4 separate regions of the Homo sapiens genome follow, and regions 2, 3 and 4 are each linked to region 1. The links come from fine-mapping of genetic effects on gene expression. A gene starts in region 1. Each other region holds a variant in brackets. All regions are shown on one strand. Distances are between the middles of the regions.

Region 1 (7,567 bases):
AGCAGCAAATAAGTCTAAAATAATCCTTAAAAAAATGCATAGAAATGAGCACAATATTGATAAAGTAAAACTAATGTATTAAAATATGATCATTAGTTAAGAAAATAAAAAATTACTCAAATGGTTACAATGAAGACACACATAGCATTTAAACACAAATACCTTGGTATTTTCAAAAGTTCAACCAATTCTAACACATTTTATTCACTACAAAGCAATGGAGAAGCAAGATACCAACAACTTTTTTTCTTTGAAATTGATTTCAAGATCAAAACTGTATTTCATTTCCATGGCATTAAAGTATGTGATTTATACAGTATACCTAAACTTGTTGCTTACTTCAAAACAGCAAATACTAACATGTCCCCAGAGAGGATAAAATTTTATGGGTCTTTAAAAAGCAAAAATAAAAATAAAAATAAATCTGTGGTTTTCAATTTCTGATTATAACCATGGTATAAATCTATAATCAAGAGCTTTATTTGCATTGACTTTTCTAAATCAGTATCTCTTCACCACGTGTAGTAAGCTATTTCTAATGAAACACACTGTTATCAAATGTGTACCAATTATCAAATGTGCCCCAGTTGTCATTGTTTTTTAAATTTTTACAACAAAGTAATATTTGCTCCAAAGAGGATATATTTTCGTTTTAGGAAAAAAATTCATGTGGATAATGAATATACTAACTTAAAGCACATGATTTCACTATCTTTCTCCTGCTAGAATTTGATAGGCCTCACAGAGGACAAAAAGTGCATATATAACAATATCTACTAAACTCTCAAATCCTGGTCCAAAAATTACATGCAGGAGGATTACCTGCAAAAAGTGAACAGGTAATTAAATGACAAATAGATGTTAAAAATTACTTAAATTCTTATCAGGTCAATTTGAAGAGCCAAAGTTTACATAAAGAAGATTTTAAGGAAGAAAATAGCAAAATGTTGGGTTTGTAAGATGTTTCAGTGAATGCTAATGTAGAAACTATAAGCTTATTTGAAAAGAAGAAAACCATTTGCTGATCATACTACAGCAGCTACCTACATATTTTCAATTAAGTGATTCTGCTATTATAGGTACACATGAAACCATGTTTGGAAATCCCACAAGCTATAAGGACAAAACCCTCCTTTTGTTTACTTTGGATACTAATTAGAGATACAGATAATATGGATACGACTTATTTATAAAAGAGAAAAAATAATTTTTCTCTCCTTCACATGAATAACTGCATGTTAAATGAACGCTTTTACCTTTCAATGTAAAATCTGTTTACACATACAATAAGGCATGATAAATCCATAGTTAAAATAAAACACCAAAATGTATTTCTGGTTTTTTATCACTAAAAGTTTATTCTGAAAAGGTTCTGGACATTTGAAAAATAAAGGACTAGAATCATTCCCATACCCTACCAGTGTATTTTGGGAAAATCAAATTTTCTGTAAAGAAACTTATGAACATATTTGTACAGTTATTGTGATCTAATATGAACCAAAAGCAGATAATGAATAGCACTAGGAAGAACACAGGGATATTTTAGTTCTAACACCCTCCTGTCTCCCTAGCCCTTACCTCCCTGCACATTCCAAATAATCTTTTGTAATTCACTGTCTCCGCCCACCCCATTTACTTTATGCCACTCCTAGTTACTGTCACACTAGGAAGAAGTCTAACATGCAGATTTAGAGTGGCATGGATAAATGGCAAAAAAATGCCTAGAAAATTGGTCTGTTCGCCTTTATAATTTTGGTTGAAAAATACTCCATCGCTCCCAACTGATGAAAACAGGAAGCTCTATTCATAAATATAAAATTCACTGCCTATGATATATAATCATCCTAATAAGAAAATGAGTTCTATACATACTTGTCCAAAGGGGCAAAAAAGGAGATAGTTTCCCAAAGATGTTTCCAATTTTCTTCTGAATCAGAATTAGCAAATCGAGACGACTAACATACTCTGTCTGTGGGCATTATTCCTTACTACACACAGCATTTTGTAATTTATTTCAAAGCTTCCATTAGAAACAAAAAAATACATAGCTTCTGTTAACCCACTCTATTCTAAGCTCATAGAATCAAATACTGAACAATCTACATTATAACATAAGCATTTTACTTTATAGAAGATCTGCTATCAGAAACTCTATTAATGTCTAAACTACTTAAAGAACTATATAAACTGAATACACTTCAATGAAAGACAAAAAATATTACAATCATAAAGAAAACTAAGATTCATCCAATAAACTATATTACAATCCCTGTCATTCATTTTTTTAAGATCTTCAAACTAGGCATGAGATAATGGTATACATGAAACATTACATTTAATCTTTATTGTAAAGGCCGCCATCTAATAGATTGATAATAAACTAGACAGACGTGATTTAAAATTTGTAAAAGAATGCCCAGACTAACACTTTCATGACAGCCAATTATAGTCAAGCCTAGCAAGCAGTTTGCAACCAGACCTTAAGGTAAACTTTTTTTTTTTTTACAATGAGTTACAGATTCACAAGTTTAAGAAGACAAGAAAAAGGAAAACAGAAGGAATCCAGCCACCCAGCAAATATGAAGCAGACCCCAGAATGTGATACAGTCCAAAGATGTGAATTATTGTATATCATCACTGTTGTTCAGAATTTCACACAGACTCTTGAGCCAATTTTGTTCATTTTTCCACAGACACAATAATGAACTAAAAAGAGGAGGCAAAAAGGCAGAGGTTGAGCGGGGAGTAGAAAGGAAAGCCCTTAACTGCAGAGCTCTGCTCTACAAATGCTTAACCTTACAGGAGTTTGGGCTCCTTCAGCATTTGTATTCTATCCAAATCCTCATGAGTCACAAAAATTAAAAAGCTATATCCTTCTGGATGCCAGGAAAGGCCTTACCACAAGCCTTTTGTGAGAGAAAGAGAGAGAGAGAAAGAGCAAGGGGGAAAAGCCACAGTGGTAGGCAGTCCCACTTTACTTAAGAGTACTGTGAGGTCACAAACCACATGATTCTGCCTCTCCAGTAATAGTGCTTGCAAAAAAAAGGAGTTTTAAAGCTTTTGCTTTTTTGGATTGTGTGAATGCTTCATTCGCCTCACAAACAACCACAGAACCACAAGTGCGGTGCAAACTTTCTCCAGGAGGACAGCAAGAAGTCTCTGGTTTTTAAATGGTTAATCTCCGCAGGTCACTACCAGCCACCGAGACCAACAGAGTCAGTGAGTGCTCTCTAACCACAGTCTATGCAGTAATAGTAGGTCCTTCAAATATTTGCTCATTCTCTTTTTGTTTTGTTTCTTTGCTTTTCACATGTTACCAGCTACATAATTTCTTGACAGAAAAAAATAAATATAAAGTCTATGTACTCCAGGCATACTGTAAAACTAAAACAAGGTTTGGGTATGGTTTGTATTTTCAGTTTAAGGCTGCAAGCAGTATTTACAACAGAGGGTACAAGTTCTATCTGAAAAAAAAAGGAGGGACTATGGCATCAAACAGCCTCTTCAGCACAGTGACACCATGTCAGCAAAACTTCTTTTGGGGTAAGTGTTACCATTTTTAAAATCCTGTAAGATATGAACCTGTTAAACATAAAGGTATGATTCTTTGATAAACTGCTAGCTTTTCCAAATAGCATATTAAAGATCCTAATTATGCTATCTTGTTGCATTAAGAATTGAAAAATGAAATTTCTGTATATATTTGCATTTGGTATCTGTAATGTATCTAATTTTCAAAGTAATGACTTGAAATATACAAAATTAAATTATCTCACATTGATCAAAATGTTTTCTAGAGTTATAGAGGTGAGGATATGAAAACAGTAAAAGAAACAGTTTAATACTCTCATTAACCCTCACCAGAAGAAAAGTCAGATCCTAAATTAATCAAAGCATTATAAATTATTGACTCCGGCAGCTCCCAATATTTGAGCAAACTTCAAAAAGGAAGCAATTTTACAAAATAACAGACCACAGAATTATCTCAACATTATGGTCTACCATGTATAACACAGAAATAAACCTGTAGTACAGTTAACATTTTAACCAGCTCAACTAAAAGAAATCTACTTATAAATTCAAACTGTATCCTATCTAAATAAGTTTGTTTCTAAACAACTTTATATAAGTATACATTCAGCTGAAATAAAATTATGATAAGCACATCACAGCCATTTTTAAAAGATCTTTATAGTTGCCCAGGATATTAAAAAGTTCATGGAAGTATTTTAAAACTTACATGCAACTGCATTTTTCTATGTAATTTTAATTTTACATCTACACACTGTTATCCATAGACCTTGTTATAAACACACTGAAACACTGAAACGTCTAAGATTCTTTTAATCACATTCTTGGACCTACCAAAATGAATAACTGCTGTTTAGTCTCATGAAAAATAAAGCTCCATAAGGATACCCTGTATGATTTTTAAAAGCCACAACTATTAAACCATGCTGGACTTTAAAAGAAGTAGGCATAATCTTGTCCCTTAATATTTAATTTCAAGTTACTGTTGATACAGATATGTAAATGACTTTAACATTCATCAGCTGATGTGTTATTATAGCAAAATATCTAAACACACTTACAAGATTCTCTTTATGATCTCCAACATGTTCCAACTACAAGGCAAGTTTTCAAAAATTTTTCTTATATCCATTAAAATAAACCTTCTTGCTGTGTACATCTATATTAACTCTGCTTTTAACTTACAACTAATGACTGGAGTTTCCTTTACTCCTCCTACTTCACACATTTTAACTGGATACTACTAGAGGATCAGTCTCAGTTTAGGTCAAACAGAAATAATTAAACCTGAAGGGAGAAAAAATGGTTTCTCTTACAGGGTGAGGAAATGTACTTTGTATTTTACAAAAAAAAATGTAAAATTGCTTTAGTGACTCCCTCAATAGCTGTAAGTGGGCCCCCTCAGTTATAATATATACAATATAATAATCACAGATTAATTTAAAATTTTAATGATGGGTACCAAGTATTACTCTAAAAACTTCTATATTAAGGAAGCAGGACATAAACACAGCTAGACTACATTACAACACATAGCATAATTACAGCTTATACATCGAAAGTTTTGTTACTACTACCCAAGAGATAAAAGGAAAAAGAATAGTTAAAACTACTGTTACACAGAGGGATAACTTGAAACAGGGATAACAGAGATATCAGGGAGGGATAACAGAGGCAGTTAAGTTACTCTTTCACGTTATCACTCTGTTTAACTATTTATTTTAAACACATTTTAAAAACCAGATCAGGAACAACACAAGTTTCAAAAAATTCTTCAGTATTAGAAGTAAAGTTATCATGAAGAATATGTTAAAATTCTCACAAAGAATATATTAAACTGCTTCTTATTCTATCATAACAGGGATCTTATACTTCTGTAACATTCTTAATAACTATTCAAAATTTCCAAAACTTGACAGGATTCTAAGCAAGGCATGGTAGTGAACCTTTTTTTTTTCCAACATTACAACCAGTTCTTCCTCTTTTGAAAAGTGGGCTGCACCTTCCCTCCCCGCCAGCCCCCAAACAGTATCTTGAAGCCTGAATAGAGAACTTAACATCAACCCACTACCTCAGACTAATTACAGGTGAGTAGTGGACATCATGTATATGTTATCACATTGCAAACATTTCCCCATTCTATAATCTATGCAAAGCCTAAAACCTCACTTCAGGCTTTAGATTTTTATATAATGATTATCACCACCACCTAATGAAATGTCTTAAGTATGTGCCCCAATTTTGTAAAATAGTTAAAAAGAAAGTTTAGGATTTTCCTAGGTGAGGTACAAAGCACACATTAACAACTGCTTCACCTCAAATACAATGAGTGGTGTGTGTGTGTGTGTGTGTGTGCGCGCGCGCGCGCACATGCTAGAGAAAGAGTATGTCTGTGTCCTTGATCTCTCAGCATACTTCACTTTGAGTTAATCAAAAATTTTCAATCTGTACTACTCAAAATCTGTCCATCATTTATCATAAATATAGCTTGCTGAAAATCACAGATGTGACTCATAGAGTATCTTAAAATTAATGACTCATGAAAATATATCAGCTGACTGATTATCTACATAAAATCTTTGTAACTGCTTGAACATGATGTGTGAACACTGATTTCCAAAACAGCAATTGTGGTCCATATCAATAATATATTTATAGTTTCAAGATTCAGTAGTGACAAAGTTTTATAGCTTCTTTTTAAAATACAGAGCTAAATTCCAAAACTAGGGAGCAGAATTACAAAGTTAAGAACAAACACAGAAAATCACTCTAACACATATCAAAAGCTAAAAATGTCAAAGTAATTCCCAAAGACTCATATAAATTATTTTAAATTATAATAATCCTAATTTTACATTACAAACTGTTAAAGATTTTTAGTTTTTATTTTTAAAAAATGTTTTGAAATCTAAAACACTGAAAAGAAATTGTGGAAAAAGATCTGGCTGGTCTGTCTGACTCTCCTGATCAATCCGTCTCTATATCACAAGGCATGAAATATACATGATTACATTATGATATATTTTAGTTATCTTAAAAGAACAAAATATTAATTTATTCAATTACTCTCTTCCAGCTAACAACTGATAGTTTGACTTGTTTAAATCAGTCATGCTAAAGTTAAATTCGGTAAGATAGAAATGTTCCAGTTTGTTAAAAGAACACTGAAATATTTGATGGTTAAATAAACTGCAGGGGCGGGGGGAGCTAACTCATTGAAGGCACTAAGATTTTATCAAACACACAGAATTAATATTTATTGAATAGAACCATTCACAAATCAAAACTCACTGTACTCCAATACTTTAAAGCAGCGCTAATCAATTACAAACCTTTTCTAGTGCTTCAAAATTCATGTGCTTTCAATTTTACACACTGGTGGTCCTCAAGTACTGTACTGAGGCTGAGTTAAGACATTCTGTATCACAACTTTTTTTTTCAACAAATATTCATCTAGAGGGCTTTCCCCCTCCCCCCGATTCAAGAGCTGCTCACATGAAAACTGTGGTAATATTTTTATACTGTACTTCTTTGTTGAAGCAAAAGGTTAGGGGTTACCTAAATACCTCAACTGTATATATATATTTAAAAAAAAGGAAAAGGTAAGTATTCATAGAAAAAAATCCAATGGGACTATATTATTTATTTTTGCATTTCTCATGATTAATGATGCACCCGTGCATACTTGAAAATTGACGGCAAAACAGGGTAACATCTCAAATCCCTCTCCAAAGCATACAAATACCAATCTTCCATACTGTTCTAACCTTTGTTCTAGGATACTAAGATATGACAACTCTAAGTCAATAGTGAAGTCATGCAAAAGCTCATTAAATGCATTAAAACTGCAAATACTATTACCTAACAAAAATCTTTAGACATTTTATATGAAGGATTCACCGAAACAGTCTACCTCTATAGCATCTATTAAAAATATATAAAAACATGTGACCAAATAGACAAATGCCATCAACTCAATGTGAAAAAAATCCTTCCTGCAAATACTAAAATTGTAATTATGGCAAAGCATAACTAT
Region 2 (7,567 bases), 220 kb after region 1:
AGCAAAGTTCTTGCAGCTCTTTTTATGACAGCTACATTTGTTTGCAAGCTGTTTGGCTTTGGCTAGGGGTGTAGACAGCAGTTTTGGAATGAAATGCATCTGTAGGAAGCCAGCAGGTCCTAAGGGGATCATACCCTTGACCTTGGTCTCATTCACATGTTGCCCTGAGCAACCAAACTAATTGCCCATTATTTAGCAGATTAGATCAACAAGGCCTAAAAGAGTTATTAATAATATCCCAAAGATAGGAACTCTCACTGGGGCAACACTTAGGCAGTAGAAGAGTCAATTTAAGTATTTTGAGATATTTTGAGTATTTTTCATTTAGGCAAATCAACTTCTAAGATAGCAGGTGTGTATGTGTATGTAGATAGACCTGTGATCATGTTAACCAAATTCCTTAAGGGTAACTAAGATAGCATATCCTTTGTTAGAAGTCAAAGAGGTCTGTCTAGCTGTGGCTGTGATTTTGTGATATTGAGTAAATGGCTTCTTTTCTCTAGATACCAGCTTTCCTATTTGTCAAACAGGGGTTAGATTTGCATTACCTAAGCAGCAAATTAAGAGTTTAGACTTTTCCATCAGAGTTCCTCAACCAGCATAAAGGAGTATTTGAGTACCTTGGGGGATCTCGGATCATAGCCTAAAGCTTTACAAGAGCAAAATTTTGTTGAAGTCATTTTTTATTTATCTAAAAATTCACATAAATGTTGCACTCTCCTCCACATCATATTCATGTTTATTGTATAGTGTATTATTTTCCCCAAGTTGAGTAAAACCAACCCATCAGGAAAATGCACGATGATTATCTTGGGCTTCTAGTAACTCCTGGCAGTCCCCCAGGAAGATGTAGGCACATACCATTTTGAAACTCTTCGCACCAAGTGATCTAGTGTTGGCTATAGCACTCTCAACTTCTCCACTGTTCAGCAAAGCCTAATAGCCGAATGTACTTTGTATATGGAGGAGATAACATGGATAACAGCAAAAAGAATGGACTTGTGCAAGTTGTTCCTTGCTATTTTAAAAAGGTCCCCAAACCACCTTTGGCTTTATCTATCCAGTAAGTTGTAGTCATGAGTTTTAAACTGGCTCTTGGGAGCTCTGAGCGTACCAGGCATATCACTGGGGGAGTGGCTGAGCTTTGGTTTTATATTTAGAAAATCAGATTGGGGTTGCACTGCTTTTAGAACTCTAGGCCTTCATAATATGGACTCTTAATAAGTCAAACTTATATTTTGCTTACTTTAGTTGATGTAACATCCAGTTAGTTCTATGTTGGTAAGTTTGTGGCTACAATGTGGTTGGTGACACAAGGATGACTAGTTTAGGATACAATGTCAAAATAGCCCAAGCAGGGGTTCTAAAAGAAAACCTGAGTTCATGTACAAAACAGACATTGGAAGCACAGACACAACCTTATTCAATGAAAGAAAATTTAAGGATATTATTTGCTTCTGTAACTATTATTATTTAAAAATTTGAAGATTAGGAAGGAGTTTATAGTCTTTCTTTTAAGTTTAGGATTTCTCCCACCACCTTATCATGATTATTTTATAAGGGATCTCGTATGGTACTAGAGCAAATTGTTACTATTTCTTCCTAGAGAACATGTTGCAAAATGTTTCAGGAACATTTCTTGGTAACATAAAGTGACTAAGCAAATTCCAGAAAATTCTATTGTTTGTAAGTTGAAAAATCATCCTATAATCCCTTTCAAGTCAACATTAGCGCTCTTTATCAAGAAAGAGTCCATTCTCAAGACATTAAGACTCAAATGCCTAGAAGTGATTGGTTAAAATACTGTAAACCTAGCGGAAATTTGTTGCATTGTTTTCTATAAACCATAACCAGAGCTCATTAATTGAAAAACAAATGTCATTTTGTGTTAGCTAGCATCTATAAACCAAAAAGGTACAGTGATCCTGGCATGTGATGGGCAATAAAAACATCAGCAAAATGTATCAGGTAAAATTGAGAGGAAGGAGTGGGGAGGGGTAAATTCAAAACCATATTGGAGTTTACTGCCAGGGCCCCACATAAAGAGTTTTAATGAGGCTTCTGCATCAAAATAAGTGAAACCATACGGAATTGTAATTATTACTGCAGTGTATTTTAAGTACAGATACACCTAAGAAGCAGTTTTTACATTAACATGTCTATCTGTGTGAACTCCATACTTCTGCAGGGGGCACACGTTGGCGTTTTAAGTGCGACTTCTTTCTGATACACGCTGTTCACATTATTCTGGTTCTTCTTATATGATCTAAATATTGAACTTAATGCATACAGAAGTGCCCTGCCCATCGCTGTTAGTTCTGCCAGCTCAAGGTCACCTGGATGCCCTGCAATGCAGAGGCTGCCTGAGGAACGTCTGTGGCCTCCATTTGGCCTCTGTATTGTACGAGGCAGGGCACAAGCACTGGGCGGGGGAAATGTTATGGAGCATCTGCTCCCATTTCTGATTCTGTCATAATCGCTGTTTCCACATTTTTAAATTTAAGCTTGTCAGAATTTCGTTTTTGGGAGGAATAGGTAGAGGCTAGTTGAGGATGGAAGAATTTATAAAAAGCAGAGAGTGACTGCCTGGGCTGTCAGTTTTGGTTCTTCATCTTGAAAGTGTTTGCTTCTGGCCTTAGAAGCTGCTCACTAGCTTTTACCCTCTGCTTATGGGCCTGCAGACTCTGGGAAATACTAATGAGGGATGGGAACCTCTCTGTCTACCCCTCCCCTAAGGCTGTTGCTTCTCCTTCTCTCTTGGAATTCATAGTCATAGAACATTAGAGCTGGAAGGGAACTTAGAGCTCATCCCCCTCATTTTACAGATGATGACACTGCCACCTCTGACTTCTGCCTCTGGCCTTCCACTCTCAGTAAGAAGAGCCAGGCAGGTGAGACTTTTAACAATTGCTGGGCTGGGCAGGGCTGGGCTGGGCTGGGCTGTCTGGTTGTTACTGTCCGATTTGTGAGTTTTGTTAACTATATGTTGCTTTTAAAGAGTCACTTTTTATTACAAATGCACATCATGGCACTTAACCCTTGCATTTTGTGAAGATTATAAGCAGTGTGCATTTTAACAAAAATTAATAACCTTCAATCAGCACCTTTAAAGAAAAGTGTTCGGATTATTCCCTTAATAAACATCGTAATATCCAAGAACAAGGTCTGAATAAAAATGAGGTGAAGAAGTACCCATTCATTAAAGTCCTCAAGAATTGTTTAGTGCTTTCCTTTATAGCTAAAAGCTGTAGGAGAAACAAATATATGAGATCTGAATAATCAAAATATTTTAGAAGGGAACAATATCTTAACAAGAGCACTGGTATTAGAAAAGGGCTTGTCACAATTCTGTCAATTCTAGAAAAATAATAATAAACCCAATCTTTAAAGGTCACAACTACAAGATTCTAGCATTTCAGAAAACAAATTTCCACATGAAATGGTTTATAACGGTGGTTTCATAACTTAGGCACCAGAAACATCTATTAAGGAGGCCTACTGTTAGCTTTAGAAGTGAAAGGACTTCATGTTTTAGGGGAAAACCATCTTTGCCTTCAGGTTACTGCTTCAAGTTGACCTGAAGCTGGTTCTGTAGGATGTGGTGCTGGGGCCTGGGAGACGGGTGGGGAGTGCCCTCCTCTTAATCTCCCCTAGGCAGCGAGCCTCTCGCAAAAGCTACTGTTAGCACCTGGTCTAAATCAGGTCACAAGTCTCCCATCAAGACTTGAAATCAATGATTCCTAAGGTACCAAGCCCCCTTGTGCCTCCTAACTCCCATTTTCAAAACCGACTGATCTAGTAGCTTATGACCCTCCCTATCCACCCCCAGAGAAGTTATGAGTTTCTGGTTTGATTTCACTGTTGCTAAGATGAGACCTCTGACAAGATTTTAAATTCTTTAAAGGCCTTAAAGGAAATGATAGGAACATGATAGGATATCTTTTTGATGTTCCTTCATTGATGAAAGAGCCTACCAAGAGTAAATAACAGTAAGACATTATTTTGGAATTTCTTTATATTGAGTTGAGGAAAATAAACTTGTCTGACTTAGTAAAAATTTCACTTCAAATATCTAAAGTGCAACGAGAAGCAAAAAGAGAAAAAAAATCCATGAGGATTTGGTTTTAAAGTCTGGTGAGTGAACCTATGTGATCAGAGTGTTGGGTTGGTTTACACATTGACCTGGCACACATGTGGGTTTTTAAAGCCCTCTGGGATTCTCTGGGGGTGAAGAACTTAAGGATCAATGCTGTTAAGACTGCAAAGTGGGGGAAAAAGACTGTAAAGTGACTGGTGCATTTGAAGGTCTGTCTGTGGCTTGCTGTTCCTTTATGGGAAAGCTAAAGTTTTCTCTTTTTTTTTCTTGTAACAATTCTATCATTATTTTAATTGATATTTACAGATTTTTCCCTCCATCTTCTGTTATAATTTTTAGGTGCTTCAGAACTGGGCCCTTTTTCAGACCCCAGGCAGTTCCCAAGCATTTCATCCCTCACTGAGAGCCGCTTCTCCAACCCACGAATGCACTATCCAGCCACCTTTACTTACACCCCGCCAGTCACCTCAGGCATGTCCCTCGGTATGTCCGCCACCACTCACTACCACACCTACCTGCCACCACCCTACCCCGGCTCTTCCCAAAGCCAGAGTGGACCCTTCCAGACCAGCAGCACTCCATATCTCTACTATGGCACTTCGTCAGGATCCTATCAGTTTCCCATGGTGCCGGGGGGAGACCGGTCTCCTTCCAGAATGCTTCCGCCATGCACCACCACCTCGAATGGCAGCACGCTATTAAATCCAAATTTGCCTAACCAGAATGATGGTGTTGACGCTGATGGAAGCCACAGCAGTTCCCCAACTGTTTTGAATTCTAGTGGCAGAATGGATGAATCTGTTTGGCGACCATATTGAAATTCCTCAGCAGTGGCCCAGTGGTATCTGGGGGCCACATCCCACACGTATCAATATATACATATATAGAGAGAGTGCATATATATGTATATCGATTAGCTATCTACAAAGTGCCTATTTTTTAGAAGATTTTTCATTCACTCACTCAGTCATGATCTTGCAGCCATAAGAGGGTAGATATTGAGAAGCAGAAGGCTCAAGAGAGACAATTGCAATCGAGCTTCAGATTGTTTACTATTTAAGATGTACTTTTACAAAGGAACAAAGAAGGGAAAAGGTATTTTTGTTTTTGTTGTTTGGTCTGTTATCATCAATAACCTGTTCATATGCCAATTCAGAGAGGTGGACTCCAGGTTCAGGAGGGAGAAGAGCAAAGCCGCTTCCTCTCTGTGCTTTGAAACTTCACACCCTCACGGTGGCAGCTGTGTATGGACCAGTGCCCTCCGCAGACAGCTCACAAAACCAGTTGAGGTGCACTAAAGGGACATGAGGTAGAATGGATGCTTCCATCACAGTACCATCATTCAGAATAACTCTTCCAATTTCTGCTTTCAGACATGCTGCAGGTCCTCATCTGAACTGTTGGGTTCGTTTTTTT[T/G]TTTTTTTTTCCTGCTCCAAGAAAGTGACTTCAAAAATAACTGATCAGGATAGATTATTTTATTTTACTTTTTAACACTCCTTCTCCCCTTTTCCCACTGAACCAAAAAGAAATCCCATCCCTAAAACCTGCCTTCTCCTTTTATGCAAAACTGAAAATGGCAATACATTATTATAGCCATAATGGTATAGATAGTGATTGCGTTTGGCTATGTGTTGTTTTCTTTTTTTTTAAATTATGAATATGTGTAAAATCTGAGGTAACTTGCTAACGTGAATGGTCATATAACTTTAAAGATATATTTATAATTATTTAATGACATTTGGACCCTTGAAACATTTCTTAGTGTATTGATATGTTGACTTCGGTCTCTAAAAGTGCTCTTTATTAAATAACAAATTTCTTCAGTGGTCTAGAGCCATATCTGAAATATTGCTAAGCAATTTCAGTTCATCCAGGCACAATGTGATTTTAAAAAATACTTCCATCTCCAAATATTTTAGATATAGATTGTTTTTGTGATGTATGAAGGAAATGTTATGTTTAGTTCTTTCAGATCTTTGAATGCCTCTAACACAGCTTTGCCTTCTAAAGCGGTAATTAGGGATTTAAAAAACAACCTTTAGCCCTTTATCAGCATGAAATGCTGGAGTGATGTGGTTTTCTAATTTCTTTGGGGTAATTATGACTCTTGTCATATTAAAAAGACAAGCACAAGTAAATCATTGAACTACAGAAAAATGTTCTGTGGTTTCATAGTTAAGCAAAACTCTAAATCGCCAGGCTTCATAGCAAAGACATAGTCAGCTAAAAGCCGCACATGTGGATAGAGGGTTCAATTATGAGACACCTAGTACAGGAGAGCAAAATTGCACCAGAGATTCTTAACCAACCAGCCTTACCAAACAACACAACAGGGGAACCCCAATCTGCCTTACCCAAGGCCCCACTGGCAGCTTTCCACAGAATTTGCATTTAGAGGAGCAGAATGACATCACTGTCCTTTGGGAGTAGGTCCTCTGAAAAGGCAGCAGGTTCCAGCAGGTAGCTGAGCTGAGAGGACATATGGCCCACGGGGACCTACAGACAGCCTTTGACATTTGTATTTCTTACAATGGAGGGCCAAGGAGGGCAAGGGGCTGTGGAGTTTGGTGTCTACTAGTGTGTATGAATTTGAGCTAGAGTCCTTCTGTGGCATGCACTTTGACCACTCCTGGCAGTCACATGGCAGATTTCCAAGTGCAAATCCTTAATCCAAACAAGGATCATCTAATGACACCACCAGGCCAATCCCTGCTCTCCTCCCCGAAAAGTCAGGGTCCCTTCATTGGAATCCTCCACCCACCCAAGCAGAATTTAGCAGAGATTTGCCTTCAAACCCTAACGGCCCCCTTGTTCTCTGGTCCTTCTCAAACCCACCTTTGTAGGCCACCCAGCATTGCAGGACAGCGTGTGGGGCAGCTGGACCTGTGCTTCCTGCCTGGGAGTCTCCCTTGGAATTCATCCTGACTCCTTCTAATAAAAATGGATGGGAAAGCAAAACACTTTGCCTTCTAAAGGCCGTATACCAAGTATGCTTAGATAAATAAGCCACTTTTCTATTACTTAAGTAAGAAGGAAGTAGTAATTGATACTATTTATTGTTTGTGTGTGGTAGCTTGAAGCACACCACTGTCCATTTATTTGTAAGTGTAAAATATGTGTGTTTGTTTCAGCAGCACTTAAAAAAGCCAGTGTCTGGTTACACATTTCAATTTTAATTAATTGACATAAAAATGCTACCGCCAGTGCCAGCTGCATCCTATTTAATTAAAAAGGTACTATATTTGTACATTATTTTTTAATGTTAAAAGGGCTTTTTTAAGTTTACAGTACACATACCGAGTGACTTTAGGGATGCTTTTGTGTTGAAATGTTACTATAGTGGCTGCAGGCAGCAACCCAGAAACACTTTAGAAGCTTTTTTTCCTTGGGAAAAATTCAAGCACTTCTTCCCTCCACCCTCACTCCAACCACCCCAATGGGGGTAATTCACATTTCTTAGAACAAATTCTG
Region 3 (7,567 bases), 250 kb after region 1:
GGTAACTATGACAGCCCATAGACCACGCCCACTTTACGGCCAGCCCTCTCAGTCCAGGAACTTGTTGAAAGTTATCGTCTCAAAAATTCTGTCACAATAGCTGGTGCCTTTGCAATTAAGCTCCTTTGGTCACACAGGACCCCTGGAGCTCATTTGAGACACTTCCACGCCTAAGGGTCAGAAGCTGGTCCAGAACACCAAGGGAGCAGCCTCTTTTGGCAACCCACCTGGCTGCCTGTGAGGCTTCCTGGCCGGGATGCCCTGCTGCCTCCTCTTGAAATGCAGCTCTGCCCTCTGCTACTTCAGCTCCTGGCCACCTTCCAGTTCAGCTGCACATGCTCACATGTTACCAGCCCACTCCTGTGCCATTCTTGGCTGACCAGAAGGAATCAGCGCGGGTCAGTGTGGCAGACAAAGAATAAGGCTTTGAAGAAGTGCTGGGTTGAGCACGGCTTTATCCACTTCCTGGTGGGCCTGGGGCAAGTCGCTGAGCTATATTCAGCCCCAGTTACATTGTCTGTTAAATGGGAATGATTCTTCCCTCATGGATGTGTGTGAGAAACAGATGGTATCAAATGGCTAGTCCCCTGTGTATACAGCTATACCCACGTGAAGTGTTGGTAGAGTGCTCATACTCCGGTTTGCTGGAACACTCTGTTTAGGACAGTTATCCCGATGAAATCAGTAAACAGGCCCCATTTTATTCTCAAAAGTGTCCTGGGTTGGGTAATAAATTATATCACCCTGGGTATTGTGATATCTGGAGGGAGTAAATGAGGCTGGGAACTTTCCCCAAAGATGTTCAGATCCTTAGAATTCCAGTCCCTTCCTCCTCTTTTGGAGCACAGAACTTCGCATCCTTCAGTCTTGATTCACTTTCAAAATAATAATTCTTCAGTTAGTCCATTAAAAGAAATAACAGCCCCGTTTTAATTTCAGCAACGGCCTTGGAATGAAAAGACTACTAATTACTCCAATTAACCAAGCACATTAAGTGCACATGTTCAAACGCATATTAAGATACCATCTATCTCGGTCCTGAAGTTCTCGAGATGCTGGAATGCATAAACATTCAGTGGAAGAATTGTGACTGCAGAGAAAACACAAACAGAGCAGGCTGTTTGTTTGTGTGACTGCCTACTTGTGGAGAAATAACCAAGAGATGTGGAAAGACATGAGGGCTTCTCCCCAGTTTATGTTTGTAATTATTGCCCAGAGGAGACAGAACAAAGAGCTTTCTATTTATAGCCAAAGTCTAAAGGGGGTTGGGAGGGTGGGAGGAGGAAGCTTAGTCATGAGAAAACACAATTTACTATTGGCATTAATAAAATTATATAAAACTGTAGTTTATCAAAAGAACAAACTGTCTTCAGGGAAAATAAATAACTCCTTCCATTTCCTGACTCTGTATACAAGGTTATTAACTACCACTGTCCTTACCAGTGAGAGTAGAGTGGAAGTCGGCTAATGCCATGGGAACGGACGGGCTTCCTGTGGAAGCTAAGTCTGGAGCAGCGCAGGCACAAAAGCTTCAGGGCTGGTCGTGTCTGAGTACCTGTAACCAGCAAAGCCAGTGAAGGCCGCATTTCTTTAGGCACACTTCTAGCTCTCTGGTTGTTTCTCAGAGCTCAGACCTTGGGAAATGCTATGAAGGAGCACAGAAGAAGCTCAAGAACAGTGCTGGCTACTCGTAAAGGATTCTGGTTGATAATATGCAGGTAGCCTCAAGGTTCAGAATCCCATCTTGCTTGAGAAGAGACCAAAGGGGTGGAAGACGCCACAGTGGTGGCCTCCTCCATGTGGAGGAGCTGCTTTCCCAGCTCCAGGAGACAGTACCTGCGTCACATTATGGTTTGTTCTCTCTCTTTCCTTCCCTTTCTCTCCCATCTCTTTTTCTTTCTCCTTTTCCCTTTCTCCCACTTGTTCATCCACTCTTCAATGATTTATGCAGCACATATTCATTATTCATTATTTATGCAGCAAATATTTTGTTTTTTAGAACTAAAATGTTTGACCTATGCTCAATGCAGTGAGCACAAGGGAGCACATTTCTTGCCTTCAAGATCTTACAGCTTCACTGCAGAGACAAGTCTTTCCCTTCTGACATCTTTATTTTGATCACTGATAAAGTAATTTCCATAATAGGCCAGGCTTTAACATTCTAATTCCTGAAGATTCCATTTCTTTCATCCCCTCTCTTCAGTCCTATTGATTCTACTTCTCCTCTATTTTTTCTCTCTCTCTTCTTTCCTTTACATTTCCACTAGCATTTCTACAGAAATGGAAGGGTTTTCTTTATCTTCACTTTTTACAAAATTAATTTTTAAAAATAAGTATTGAATTATTAGATTGGCCAATCACTGTGCCAGGTAATTTCTATATTATCATCCCATTGAAGCCACCCAACAAACCTTTAGAAGTCTGTTACTGCCATCCCCATTTTACAGATGAGGAAACTAAATCTCAGAGAGGCTAAGTGACTTACGTAGGCCACACAAGTGGAGCTCTAGAAGGCCTAGGGAATGGCCAGTTTGGATACCATTCTACAGGTTGTGAAAATGATTATAAAGTTGCCTCCATTTCCAGGTAACTGATTCCTTGCCTTTTGGTTGCTTAAGATCTTGTATCTAACCACTGGACAATGTGACTCCAGGAAGTTCCTGGTCTAGGGCACAGAGGGTACACTTGGCAGCCCCATTCGAGAACCCATGGCATGGTTGGAGTACTTCTCCATCCCTTCCAACAATTTATCTGAAGGTCCAGAGCCTCTAATGTTGTGGACTGGAATTAGGGAGGGTCCTTGGAGGACATGCAAAAGAGGATTTTTTTTCATTCTAATCAAATTGACTTGTGTTTTAGGAGGCTCTCAAGACCGTAGTGGTGCTTCATCCTCTGTTATGCCTAGCAAGGGAAGATATGGAAGATATCGGGGAGGGGTTCACTATTCTGTATGAATGCTCCAGAATGTCCAGTAAGTGAGTCTTCTGCAGAAGCAGAGTAGAGCAGGCACTGTTATCATCATTAAGTCACTTTTGCCTCTTCCTTCAGTTTCACTCAATTGTTCTTCCTATGACTGACCTGCAAGAACAAGAATAGTGAAGAAGTTCTGTTGCTTCTTTTAGATTTATCCATTCCTTCTATCTTGCATTTATGACACTGTCCCAGACAATTATTTTAGTTGTTTTGATTTGTTTCTCTGGTTCTAGTTTTTGTCTCTTGATCTCTAAATCCATCTTGTTCTCTACTTCCCACATAATATTTTATTCTCAAGCCCTTCCTGACTAAAAAATCTACAGTATCCCATTGCCTATTTTTAAGATTTTTTTTTTTTTTTAAGACAGGGTCTCACTCTGTGTCTTAGGCTGCAGTACATTGGTGTGATTACAGCTCACTGCAGACTTAAACTCTTGGGCTCAAGTGATCCTCCCGCCTCAGCCTCCTAAGAAGCTGAGATTATGGGCATGCACCACCACACCAATAGGTTTTGCTATGTTGCCCAGGATGGTTTTGAACTCCTGGCCTCAAGCAATCCTCTCACCAGTGTTGAGATTATAGGCGTGAGTCACCACAGCCCGAGTTTTTTGTTGTTGTTGTTAATTGTAAAAAAGTAAACTTACTTATTGTCCCAAATTCAAACAATACATAAATATATAAAGGAAACTATCTCATATATATGCATACATACATACATATATATATATATACACACACACACACATACACACACACACACACACAGTCATGCACTGCAAAATGATGTTTTAGTCAATGAAGAACTGCATATACAACAGTGGTCCCCTAAGGTTACAATGGAGCTAAAGAATTTCTATCACCTAGTGAGGTCTTAGCCATGATAACGTCATAGTGCAACACATTATCTTTTCTATGTTTAGATACACAAATACTTACCTTTATGCTATAATTTCCTGTAGTATTTAGTACAATAACATGCCATATATGTCTGTAGCCTAGGAGCAATAGGCTATGCCATATAGCTTAGATGTGTAGTAGGCTAGTCCATCTAGGTTTGTGTAAGTACACTCTATGATGTTCACACAATGAAGAAATCACCTAATGATGCATTTGTTAGAACATATCCACATTGTTAAACAATGCATAACAGTATGTGTGTGTGTGTGTGCATATATAAAAATATATATATTCAAACCAAAGAATTGTTCCCTATTTTTTCTTCTTTGTTAACTTTAAATATTTTATCCTTGTAATTCATCAATATGCTAAATGAAAGTTCATTCAAACAATAATAAGAAGTCTTACAATGAAAAGCAGCAATCTCCTGCTCCATGCTTCAACAGCACAGCTTTGAAGTCAAAGGCCTCAGCTAAACTTTGAAAGCACTATGTGACTTGGTGCTGCTTGGGTTACCTTTTGAACCTTTTCCCCACTTCTCAACTTGGACTAACAACTCCCTCCAGGTCAGGCGCTTGTCTGATTGTCATTCTTTTAAGTGGAGAGTTTAGGCCATTTATATCATTTGTAATAGCCAAACTGTTTAGATTCATTTCTACCATCTTATTTTGTACTTTATAGTAATATTTACCTTTTTTTCTATATGTTT[T/TTTC]TTTTTTCTCCTTTGCTTCCTTGTTTTGGATTGATTGGTTTTATTCACTCAACTCTGAATTCCATTTTTCCCCTCTATTCCACCCTAAAAATTTTAATATGCAACTTTAACATAATTTAATTGAAAGCTAATTAATATAAGCTTTTTCTGAACAATACAAGAAACAAAGAACTCTTGAAATCTAAGTATTCATCTCTAAATTTTACATGAAGTTATCCAGATTTTAATTATCTCTTGATTTTTAAAGATTCATAAATTAGACATTGTTGTTTGGTACATATAAGTGTTTGTTTAGATTTATCCACATGTTTACTTTTATCTTTGTCATTGACTCACTTGCAATGCAGATCTACCTTCTGGGATGATTTCTTTCTAAAATGAATGTCCTTTAGATGTTTCTACAATGACAATATTCTGTTAATAAAGTCTCTCAATTTGTGATAGTTTGAAATTGTGTTTCTTTGACCATCCCTCTTTTTTTTTTTTTTTAAAGGAAAGATAGCTTTCTTTGTTTAGAATTCTAGATAGCTATTTGACATTAGTTGGTTGATCTGAAGTCATTCAATTTTCCCTGCTGGTCTTGAGAGCTCAGCTATGACCTGATCATTCTTTTTCAGACAATCTACCTGTTCTCTCTGATTGCTTTTAAGGTCTCTTTGTCTTTGTTGTTCTGCAGCTTCACTATGGTATATCTAGGCAGGGATTTCTTCGGTATTCTCTAGGCTTTCTCAATTTGTGCACTGGTGTCTTTCATTAACTCTGGACAATTCTTAGCTATTATCTCTTTTAATATTGCTTCTCCCCATTCTCTTTATTGCTTCCTATAAAACATTCTCAAATTATTCTTTACATTTTCTCACCATTTTTCACATTTCTCATTGCTTTTTTTACTACTAGATTCTGTGTAATCTCTTCAGTATTAAAGTTCATTGATTTTAATGTTTACCCTATTTATTTAAATTATTTCATTTATTACATTTTTAATTTCTAAATTTCTGTTTGGTACTTTTCAAATGTGGCTAATTTTGATAGTCTCTTTTACCTTTCACATAGTTTCAATCTCCTCTCATATTTATAAACCTATTAAACATACTAATTGTATATTCTATATTTGAATAATTCCAGTATCTGTGGTCTTTGAAGGTCTGATTGTAGAGTTTATTGTTTCTGCTGACTTTCACTCAGAGTTGTTTATTTACTTTTTATTACTGATTTTTTTTCTACAGAGCTCATTTTCTTTGTAACTTAATAATATGTAGTAATTCTTTGAGGCTCCATTTATCACCAACTTGGAATCAATTTAACTTTGTAGAGTTTTATTTTAGCCACATTTGTTGTGTATATTCAGGCCCAAAGTTATAAACCTACACATCTGTAGTTAGAAATAGGGAGGGGGAACTTTTTCTTTTTCTTTCTTTGTTTTTTTTTTTTTTTTCTACTCAGAGTCAAGACCAAGCCAGTCATGTATCTCCACCTTGTTCTGTGGGATAGATGTTTTTTTAGCTCCGTCAATGGAGTGTTGCCTTTCCATGATATTGGCTTATTTGTGGGTCTCCATTCTGATATTTCACTCACCTTGAGCTTCAGATTTTTTTCTCTCATGTGCAGGAAATGCTGACTCCATCACTTGATGATGACTCTGGATTTGGGCATTCTGATCATTCATGGGGCCCAAGGAATTACTTTCTAGATAGATCTGTCATACATTTAAAATTTTTTTTATATTTTTCCTAGTATAGTGAGGGATTTTTCTTAAAATCATGTCTACTCTATTGTCAAAAAGGTAAGACCTCACTTTTTTGCATATTGGGTAAATTATGTCTCTGAACTTTCATTTATTTCCTCAGTAAGGTGAAAAAACACATATCATTAAGATTTTTGTGAGGATTAAATAAAAGACTGGATATAAATGCCTTCCATGTAGACATTTAATAAATGATGATTGTTACTATTACTGCTGCCACTATTCTACTATCAATATTAGTACAACCTATTACTAACAACACAAAAGAGCCTGTTCTTCCATGGAGAATCAAATAACTATCCAATTAAAACAAAAATAGTTAATTTTTAAAATAGTTAAGATTTAAGCTTTCTAAACATATTTTTCATGTGTATTATGTTGGGGAGGGTCTTTTGTTTTTAAACACTACCCCTTGAGTAGTTAATAATAACAGACATGGGCCTGTACTCTGAGCTATATCTTTGATAGTGGTATGTGTGTGGGCTAGAAGTTGGGCTCCAGTCAATAACCAACACCAGAGTCCATAGTGGAAACACTTCCGTTCTGTGCAGCATGGGTGGGCAAGCTGAAAGAACACCACTTATTGGAAGAAAGGTGCTACACATATACAATGAGGTGTTATATTTATTATTATTTCTATTTTAAATTATCCATTGAAGAAAGAAGACATGGAGAGAATTTTTAGTGAGGTCCAGGGTCAAATTGGGTTCAGAAGCCCAAAGGGGAACATGGTAGTTTTCTGACTGGGATGCATGTGACCTTGGGCAGGTCAACTAACCTCTCCCAGCTTCATTCCCCTCATGGGTAAAGCAGAAGAGTGGGACTGTGTAGTTTTAGGGAACTTGTACATCTAAATTCTATGATTCTCATCTTTTATTCTCATCCATATCCCCTGGACTCCCTAGTTCACTGACTTCTAGGACCCATAATTATGACTATGTGAAAGAATACTCTTTAATCCAGCGATGCATTCCCAGAGTGACATGTGCTCTAATGTGAGAAACAGTAATGAGAGCTACAGTAGAAACAGAATCCTTCAGTGGCTTTGGCCTCCCCAACTTGATGAGATGCTCATTCATCTCGGGTGTGTGGTTGGAACATGAGTGGGTACAAAAAAGGTGCCAAAATTGCTGCCTGAGGAAGGAAGTAGTTGGAATTGATACCCTGTGAGTGGGGTTAGCTATGTGCAAAAGTAGACCACACCTAGAAACAGGGTATAGTTGTGTTTCTAAGAAGACTCAAGA
Region 4 (7,567 bases), 110 kb after region 1:
TGTTGTTTGAAATAAAATGAGGCTCACAGCCTCCGGTAGAATCAAAACTAAGGGAGTTATCTCTGCATCAGGTTTAGTTAACTTTCATAAAAAGAAGAAAAAAAGACACATCCTATATCACTATTGACTGATTAGGTTTGGAGTATGTGTGTGTGTGTATTCATTCTTCCTTTTTCTCATTTACTTATGCAGGTCCACTATGCAATTAAAGTTTTCCTTTTTTTCTAGTTAGAATCAAGAAAAATGTGAACATGATGATTTACCTGTATGCTCTGAATTGCATCTTTCTTCTTATGTAATAATACTTTTTTTTTTTAACTAGAGTAATGAATTTTAGTTTTTAAAGGATTGGGTGCCATGCTTAATTTTACATTACAGATTCAAACTAGTGTTTTCATTTATCTTACTTTTGTATTATATAGATGCTGCATAACTTTTTTCTGATCAATTTAAGTAGAAAGTATGGCAAAGTGATAGTGTACTTTGTAAACCCTCAACATATTTATTTAAGAAACTTCAAAGAGAAACAAAGGGTGTGCACTGTTTTACTATATTGGCTTTCTGAGTTTTGGCTGGTTTCCCAAATAGCAATTTTTATATTTAAAAAAAAAGACAGACTTAACTGCTTGCAGACTTTTCACGCATGGAAGATGAAGAAAGCTTCTTTTGATGAAGTGTAATTATGTCCAAACAGAGCTGACCCCCTCCCCCTATATTTCTTATGATCTTAACTGAAGAAAGTAGGATTTTTCCTTTGAAGCAGCCGGGACTTGGTGGAGGATCTGAAATGCTACAGTCTGCTGCCAGAGGCAGGATGGAGAAATTGGTCCAGACTTGTCTTCAAGACTTAGATGGGGGGTAGGGGGAGTGGGTGGAGAGAGAAAGAAAAATTGATTTATCACTAATAATATATTTTTATATCACTGCATTAACATTGTATGAAAGGAAACAGTAATATCAAGCTGAGATGAAGAGGAAAAAAGGACAGAGAACACTGATAACAGATCACACTCTGAAAAAAAAATGGGTCAGTTTTTCAGTGGCAGGAAACCCTTTAACCTGCCTTTGTACCCTTTGTACCTGACCTGCTTTATAACAGACTCTTCCAGCTTCCTCTTTGATTTTCACACTTCTACATTTCTCTTAAGCTATTAAGTCTGGATCAACATGCTGCTACCATTGTATTTTCTTTCCCGGCTTTAAATATTTCTATTTTCAGTAGTGTTATAAAAAAACACCAAGTTCCTCAAATATTGCACTTTTTTTTTTCTTTCCACTGGTAGAAACATAAACTCTCAGAAACTGAAAAACAATCTTAGATTATAAAGGAGTCATGTCACTACTGACTTTGACTTTATGGGTCATCTTATGACCACAACTTTTGAAAGTGCTAGAATAAAAGTAGAGCATCAGTGGAACTTGCATTAAGTTAGGAGAGGCTTAAGGTTTTTCATGGTTTTTCCTTTTTTTTATCCTTAATCTTTTAAAGAGAAGTGTTTAAAATGATTTTGGTCCTTAAATTTTTTTTTGGTATGCTTTCTTTTTCCTGATGAAGCCATGGATGACACAATTAGTTATCTACTGACTGCTAGCTCCCTATTTGAGAGCCTACATTTTAAAATAACAGGCTGTATTTTATCACTTATGGAAAGTGATAAAAAGGGGATTTTTGAGAAAAAATTAATTTAAGGAAATCATGAATGCCCACATAAACATTTGACTTAAGAGGTGCATTATTATTATAGGATGAAGAACCAATTACTAAATTGGTTGGTAATTTCTGAAAATTTCTTCAACATTGCATACATATTTCTTCTGAAGGGGCAATAAGAAGCAGAAGGAGCCTCATTCACTTTTGCTGTAGTTGTTAATTACATCTTGATCCTTAGGGTCTGATTTTGGCAGATCATAGTTATACTTAACTACTTGTTTCCTCCCCCAAACCCATCTCTTTTTAAAAGCAGTTTTTTATAGAGAACTCATTCTACTCTGAAAATTTAAATGCTTTATACTTGAAGGGTGAATTTTATTTTTGGCTTTTGTTCCTACATGAGGCGTCACCCTGAATTTAGGGGAAGCATAGATGACTTTTAATATCCTAAGTAAGTTGTAAAGGTCTCAAGTAGAACTGTTACCAAAACTGGTTTAAATAAATTTATGGACAATCTATTTTATCTTTTTTTCTTTTTTGAGATGGAGTCTCACTCTGCCACCCAGGCTGGAGTGCGGTGGCACCATCTCGGCTCACTATAACCTCCGCCTCCTGAGTTCAAGTGATTCTTGTGCCTCAGCCTCTTGAGTAGCTGGGATTACAGGCGTGCGTCACCACGCCCAGCTAATTTTTATATTTTTAGTAGAGACAGGGTTTCACCAGGTTGGCCAGGCTAGTCTTGAACTCCTGACCTCAGGCGATCTGCCCTCCTCCACCTCCCAAAGTGTTGGGATTACAGGCGTGAGCCACCGCGCCCAGCCGACAATCTTTCTACCAGGTTATTTAGAGACATTAAGGATAACTGAGATCTGTATATATCCTTGATTTATTAAGATGAGTGCCATAGATGAAAACTGACTCTGAAACACAGCCATGGGAGCCACTGTTAGAAAGGCAATCCTGGGCCCATAGACCACTAATCTGACCCCAAAATGGCACTTTAAAATGTTTTAGTGTAAATTAACTTTCAATCTAGAGATTCAGCTCTTTTACTTTTTGCGATCTTTCCATTGTTTTGAGGTTCTAACTTGGACCCAGTGGCTTCCTATTCAAGTTTCTGGTTTCTAATTCTGTAGGCTTTTAGTTTTCTGTAACTAGTTTAGACTCCTGGCTGGTTTATTCTTCTGGTTAGTCTTAACGCTTATAATAAAGCCTCTCTTTGCTAACCAATTATAAATTATTTAAATCCGTGTAATAGCCAATATAGTGGATAAAATATATCAATGACACTTTAAAAATAGATGCTTTCATCATCCTGAGATATTGCATTAGTCCATTTATGTTTACTGTTTCTTGGGCACATAGAGCTGATTGGGACGCATCTAGAAATAAATTACTTATTAATTTTTTTAAATGGCAAGTGATCAAGCCACTTAAGGAAGTGGCCAAGTGACAGAATATTTAAAAAAAAAAGAGCATTAATTTTAGGGTCTGAAAAATGAGGTTCAGATCTTCATTTTTTCATTTATTAGTTGTATGAACTTGGGTAAATTACTAAGTCTCTTGAGGCTTCAGCCTCCTTATTTGTGCAATGGGGGTGAGAGATCTAAGCGGGGAGGATTAATTGAGATAATGTGTATGAAGTGGCACTTAATACGTTTCTAATTGTTATTCACCTTTCCCTATTCAAACTGCACCCACCCCATTCCTGTCTTTTCTTTCCTGTTTTTTTCCCCTTGGCTATAGAAAAGTATAGCCAAGGAGACTTAAAACTATTTATACTCAGTAACAAATGATGTGCGTCTTAAACAGATTTTAGGAACTTACATGGTCTAGGTTGAAAAGAAAACCCATTCACTAGACTTGACAGCCAAAGACCTGTTCTCCATTAAGCCTTGTATATAACCTGTTCCATATTAAGCTTTGAAAAGACTGCATTAAACTTTGCATTGGT[A/G]CATATTGTCAAAGATTTGTGTTTTGGTTTAATACTCTCAGTTTTCAGTAAGGGAAAAAGAATCTCTGACCAAAAAACAAAGCAAAACAAAATGAGCTTTTTAAAGGTCTGTTACAGGAGCAGACTGAATGAGTACTCTGGCCTGAGATTGCTGAATGTTTTATTGAGTCACTGTTTCACGCCCACCTCTTCCTGTCTTGTAACAGTTTGCAGTTTTGACTATCTGACATGATTAACCGTTGCAAATCTAACTGATTACAACTGTTAGTAAGTCTGTGCAACAGAGAATGGTATCTTCTTCTGGAGAAAACAGACATCCAAATATGCTACCAAACTTTTCCCTGTCTCTTTTCCCCTTCTTATTCGTCGCTTTTAGCTCATTAATTTGAAGCATCAGATGTAATATTTCAATGAAGCACACCTTCTGCTAAAAGCAAAATTTGAGTTTATACTGAGAGATGTCATGTTCATTTAGCAAAAAGTAAGTCGCTGTCAGGGGGTTATTTCAAGATTTAACAGCAAGGATGTATGTTAGGGGAGGGGTGGACAGGGAGGAGAAAAACTTTGTTCCAGTAATGATGAAATCATCATACCACAGGCACATTACGGCCAGGACAGGAGACACTGGCTCCTGTTAAAATGATTCCCATAAGAACTTTCCTCTTTTATCTTCTTATTGTAGTGCAGCTAAGCAAATGAAATGCTAAAGCTATGTGAAGTAAATAACATAATCAACAATGATTTACTATTGTTCTCTCGTGAGGTCATGACCCAACCCTAAATAAAGACTTCTAAAATTGTCTGTGCTTGGATGTGTTCCTGATGTTGGAGAAAACTGAAAGAAAAAGAACCTTCCTCAAGTGGACCAGGGTTTTGTTTTCATTACAACTGTTGCTACTGAGGAGCTTTTTTGGAATTGGAGTCTTCCTGTGTAGCACTACAATGAGGACGATGATCTTGACTCTAAGCAAATTTGGAAATGTCCTAAAGTGGTCATCGGAGGGTTTCCAATTTAGAAGAAGGAGTCCTGCCTCTTGTCTTTGTTTCATTGCCTCCTTAGAGATGCTTAAATGCAATTTGGAAATCTATGCTGCTGTGTAATCATCAACACTGTTTTTTAATATTCACTGTATATTTTCCCCTTTTATATCTGCAGGCAAGAGTTTCACCTTGACCATAACCGTCTTCACAAATCCTCCCCAAGTAGCTACCTATCACAGAGCAATTAAAGTTACAGTAGATGGACCTCGGGAACCCAGAAGTAAGTACTCCCCTTTTTATTGAAGAAAGTAATAGAGTTTCCAGAGACCCTATGAGGAATTTATTCCAAATGAGTTAGTGTCACTTTCATGTCCATAGTGTCTTTGTGGACTTTGCTATCTGCATATATTTTTTTTAGTGAGGGAGAGTTAGTCAAACTTCAGAGTTAGTAGAAAATAAAACTACGGTTTTAACCTTTGCCACACAATCACTAAGGCCTCCGTAGCTTTGGGAAATGAGTGAATAATTATTCAGTCACTGTTAACTATTTGCTAAGAAATTTTGCTCATGTACTGAACATAATGGGGCAGAATAGACCCATGAGAGCTGAGGAAGAAAAGAGCAAACTTAAAAATCTTGAGCTTAGTCAAAAAGCACTGGCATGTGTTTCCCATGGCCTAAGAATGTGTTTTAGCTTTTTAACTCGCCCACTCAATTCCCTTTATGAAGAGCACACTGCTTAATTACAAAGAATTTATTTGCAAATGATAACTTGCTTGATTGTTACAACACTGTTGTTTGGTCATGCTCTAGTAATTGTTATAGGTAGTTTTCTTTTAACAGATAGAGTCAAACCACGTTTAAATCCATCTTGGTTTATTTGTCTGTCTGGACATCCAGAAGGTTTCACCGGCAATCAGTTTCAGGTAGCGCACATAATCTACTTGGGCCAATATGTATGTTCCTTCTAAATCTAAAATGACCGAGGTTTGCTTCCCCCACCCCCACCAAAAAACTGCTTTGAACAAACTCAGCATAGCGGTATTTGAATATATTTAGAGATTAAAGATTATTTGATATATAAACCATTAACAATTGTGTGCCAATGGAAACATCATATAGAACTCTGCCTTTGCTGAGTGAATACATTGGAATCCTAACCACTGCATTTAGGGAGGTCAGTTTGGTTTGTGGTGGAGGCATAGCTGGCAGAAGTACTTGTTCTATAACAATCAACCTGCATAGACCATGAGAGTGGCATATCTTTTCTTCCCCTAAAATGAGAGAAAAGGTCTCATAAAGTTTTGCCTCTACCCAAGCAGCATACCTTCCTAGCAGTGGGAGCATATGGTGGGTCCCGTCCCTTTTGCTGCTGTCTCTTTTCACAAAGGCTGACTGCTTGCCTGAACTAGGGAGGTTTCCTGCCTCAAAAGCAAGTCTTTGAGGTTTTTGTTTTCTTCTCCTTTCATGTGTGTGGCATTCTTCCAGGTTCATAATGTTGAGTCAGTGCTGGCCCTGTCTGTTCAGTTTGGGAATGTCCTGTTAGGTGATTGCTGTACACATGTGTGTAAGCACCAAGTCTCTAGTCCTAAGGGCTAGTGGTTATGGAGTGCAGGTGAATAGAACAGAGCTTTGCCTGGTTTGGGGCTTTGCCTGCCTTTTCTGGATAGCCATAAGTTGGGGATGATGCCTTATGATGGAAGATGTCTTCTAACTTTTGGTCAGACTAGCCCCGGAATTCCTGAAAAGGCAGGACGTCCATTTTAGTAATGCACATAGCAGGATAGTTGGTTTTTAAAATGTAGCACCGCTAATACTTATCTCTTAAAGATATTTCCTGCTGATCTCAGCTGCTTTTCTCAGTTCTTGGAAAAACCATTTGCGTGTGTTTGTGTGCGTGTGTGTGTGTGTGTATGTGTGTGTGTATGTTTGTGTGTGTATATGTGTACATACACACAAGAGTTGATGCTCAAAAGTTGATGGCTGGGAGAGGAAAGAGGGAAGGATAGGTGCTCCCTGTTCTGAACGATATGACAATAAGTGAGAAGGCAGGGTAGCTTTGGAAAAGTCACTTCTGTTTCAAGTGTGCATAGCAGTACCTTATTTCAGAGAGGTTTTTGTCCAAATTAGTCAATAGACTAATTTATAAAGGCAGAGAATTGCCTTGTAAAGGCAGAGAAGTGCTCTGAAAGCAGTGAGAGTTAGGAGTAGAGGGGCCAGGTGGTATACGTGGGACCTGAGTTCAAGCTTTGTGTGGTGCCCAGGGTGGGCGGTGGAAGCAGATACAGATCTGCAAGTGGTAGGCCACCTGCCCTAGATAAGCCTGAGTAACATTTCTTATTAACTGAAAATATCGGTGAAAATGCGGGGTCATTTTCCTGACATCATAGGGTGACTTGACGAAGTCAGTGTCTGGAGAGAAGCATGGGTCTGCTTTGAGCGACAGCTGAATCCTATAACCTGGATTCTGTGCTGGATTATTTTTTTCCTCCCTGTTCTTGGCCATCCTGGGCATTGAATATTTGTAGCATAGCCCTCTTCTCAATATGGTTCTTTAATTTTGACACTCCCAGGTGTGGGAAATGCACAATATTTCCAATTTTCTTAAACAGTGAGTATAATAGGAGTTTGATTAGTTGGTGCATATAATGTTAAATGGGAGATCCTCTAGAACACAGACTGGCACACGTTTTCTACGGAGTGCCAGATAGCAAATCCTTTAGACTCTGTGGGCCGTATGGTGGTCTCTGTCACAACCACTCAACTCTGCCATTGTAGCTCAAAAGCAGCATAAGCAAATACATACATTCATGGTCATGGCTATACAGGTTGAGTATCCCTTATCCAAAATGCTTGGGACCAGAAGTGTTTCGGATTTCAATTTTTTTTTTTAATTTTTGGAATATTTGCGTATATAATGAGATACCTTGGTGATGAGACCCAAATCTAAACATGAAATTCATGTATGTTTCATATACACC

Evidence for each region. PIP is the estimated chance that this variant, and not a neighbour inherited with it, causes the effect.
Region 2: its variant is the best candidate, but not a certain one, in a credible set for the expression of RUNX2 in whole blood (INTERVAL, PIP 0.74).
Region 3: its variant is the best candidate, but not a certain one, in a credible set for the expression of RUNX2 in whole blood (INTERVAL, PIP 0.73).
Region 4: its variant is the best candidate, but not a certain one, in a credible set for the expression of RUNX2 in whole blood (INTERVAL, PIP 0.73).

What each region holds. Positions count from the first base shown.
Region 1 is chr6:45,325,242-45,332,808 of GRCh38, forward strand. It overlaps RUNX2 (RUNX family transcription factor 2), which reads left to right and starts at 3,089. Exons shown (of 9, transcript NM_001024630.4): 1 at 3,089-3,219; 2 at 3,420-3,543. The coding sequence starts at 3,486. All of the region lies in intron 2 of SUPT3H (SPT3 homolog, SAGA and STAGA complex component), which reads right to left. RefSeq lists a cis regulatory region at 1,807-1,813, a promoter at 2,771-3,411 and an enhancer at 2,818-2,858.
Region 2 is chr6:45,542,392-45,549,958 of GRCh38, forward strand. It overlaps RUNX2 (RUNX family transcription factor 2), which reads left to right. Exons shown (of 9, transcript NM_001024630.4): 8 at 2,826-2,891; 9 at 4,436-7,567. The coding sequence ends at 4,914. Among named protein-coding and RNA genes, the nearest start is that of RUNX2-AS1, 31 kb to the right of the region's middle. The variant T/G (reference allele first, on the strand shown) is at 5,513.
Region 3 is chr6:45,576,832-45,584,398 of GRCh38, forward strand. No RefSeq gene overlaps it. Among named protein-coding and RNA genes, the nearest start is that of RUNX2-AS1, 3.8 kb to the left of the region's middle. The variant T/TTTC (reference allele first, on the strand shown) is at 4,580.
Region 4 is chr6:45,433,186-45,440,752 of GRCh38, forward strand. RUNX2 (RUNX family transcription factor 2) reads left to right here. Exons shown (of 9, transcript NM_001024630.4): 5 at 4,762-4,866. Among named protein-coding and RNA genes, the nearest start is that of SUPT3H, 59 kb to the left of the region's middle. The variant A/G (reference allele first, on the strand shown) is at 3,606.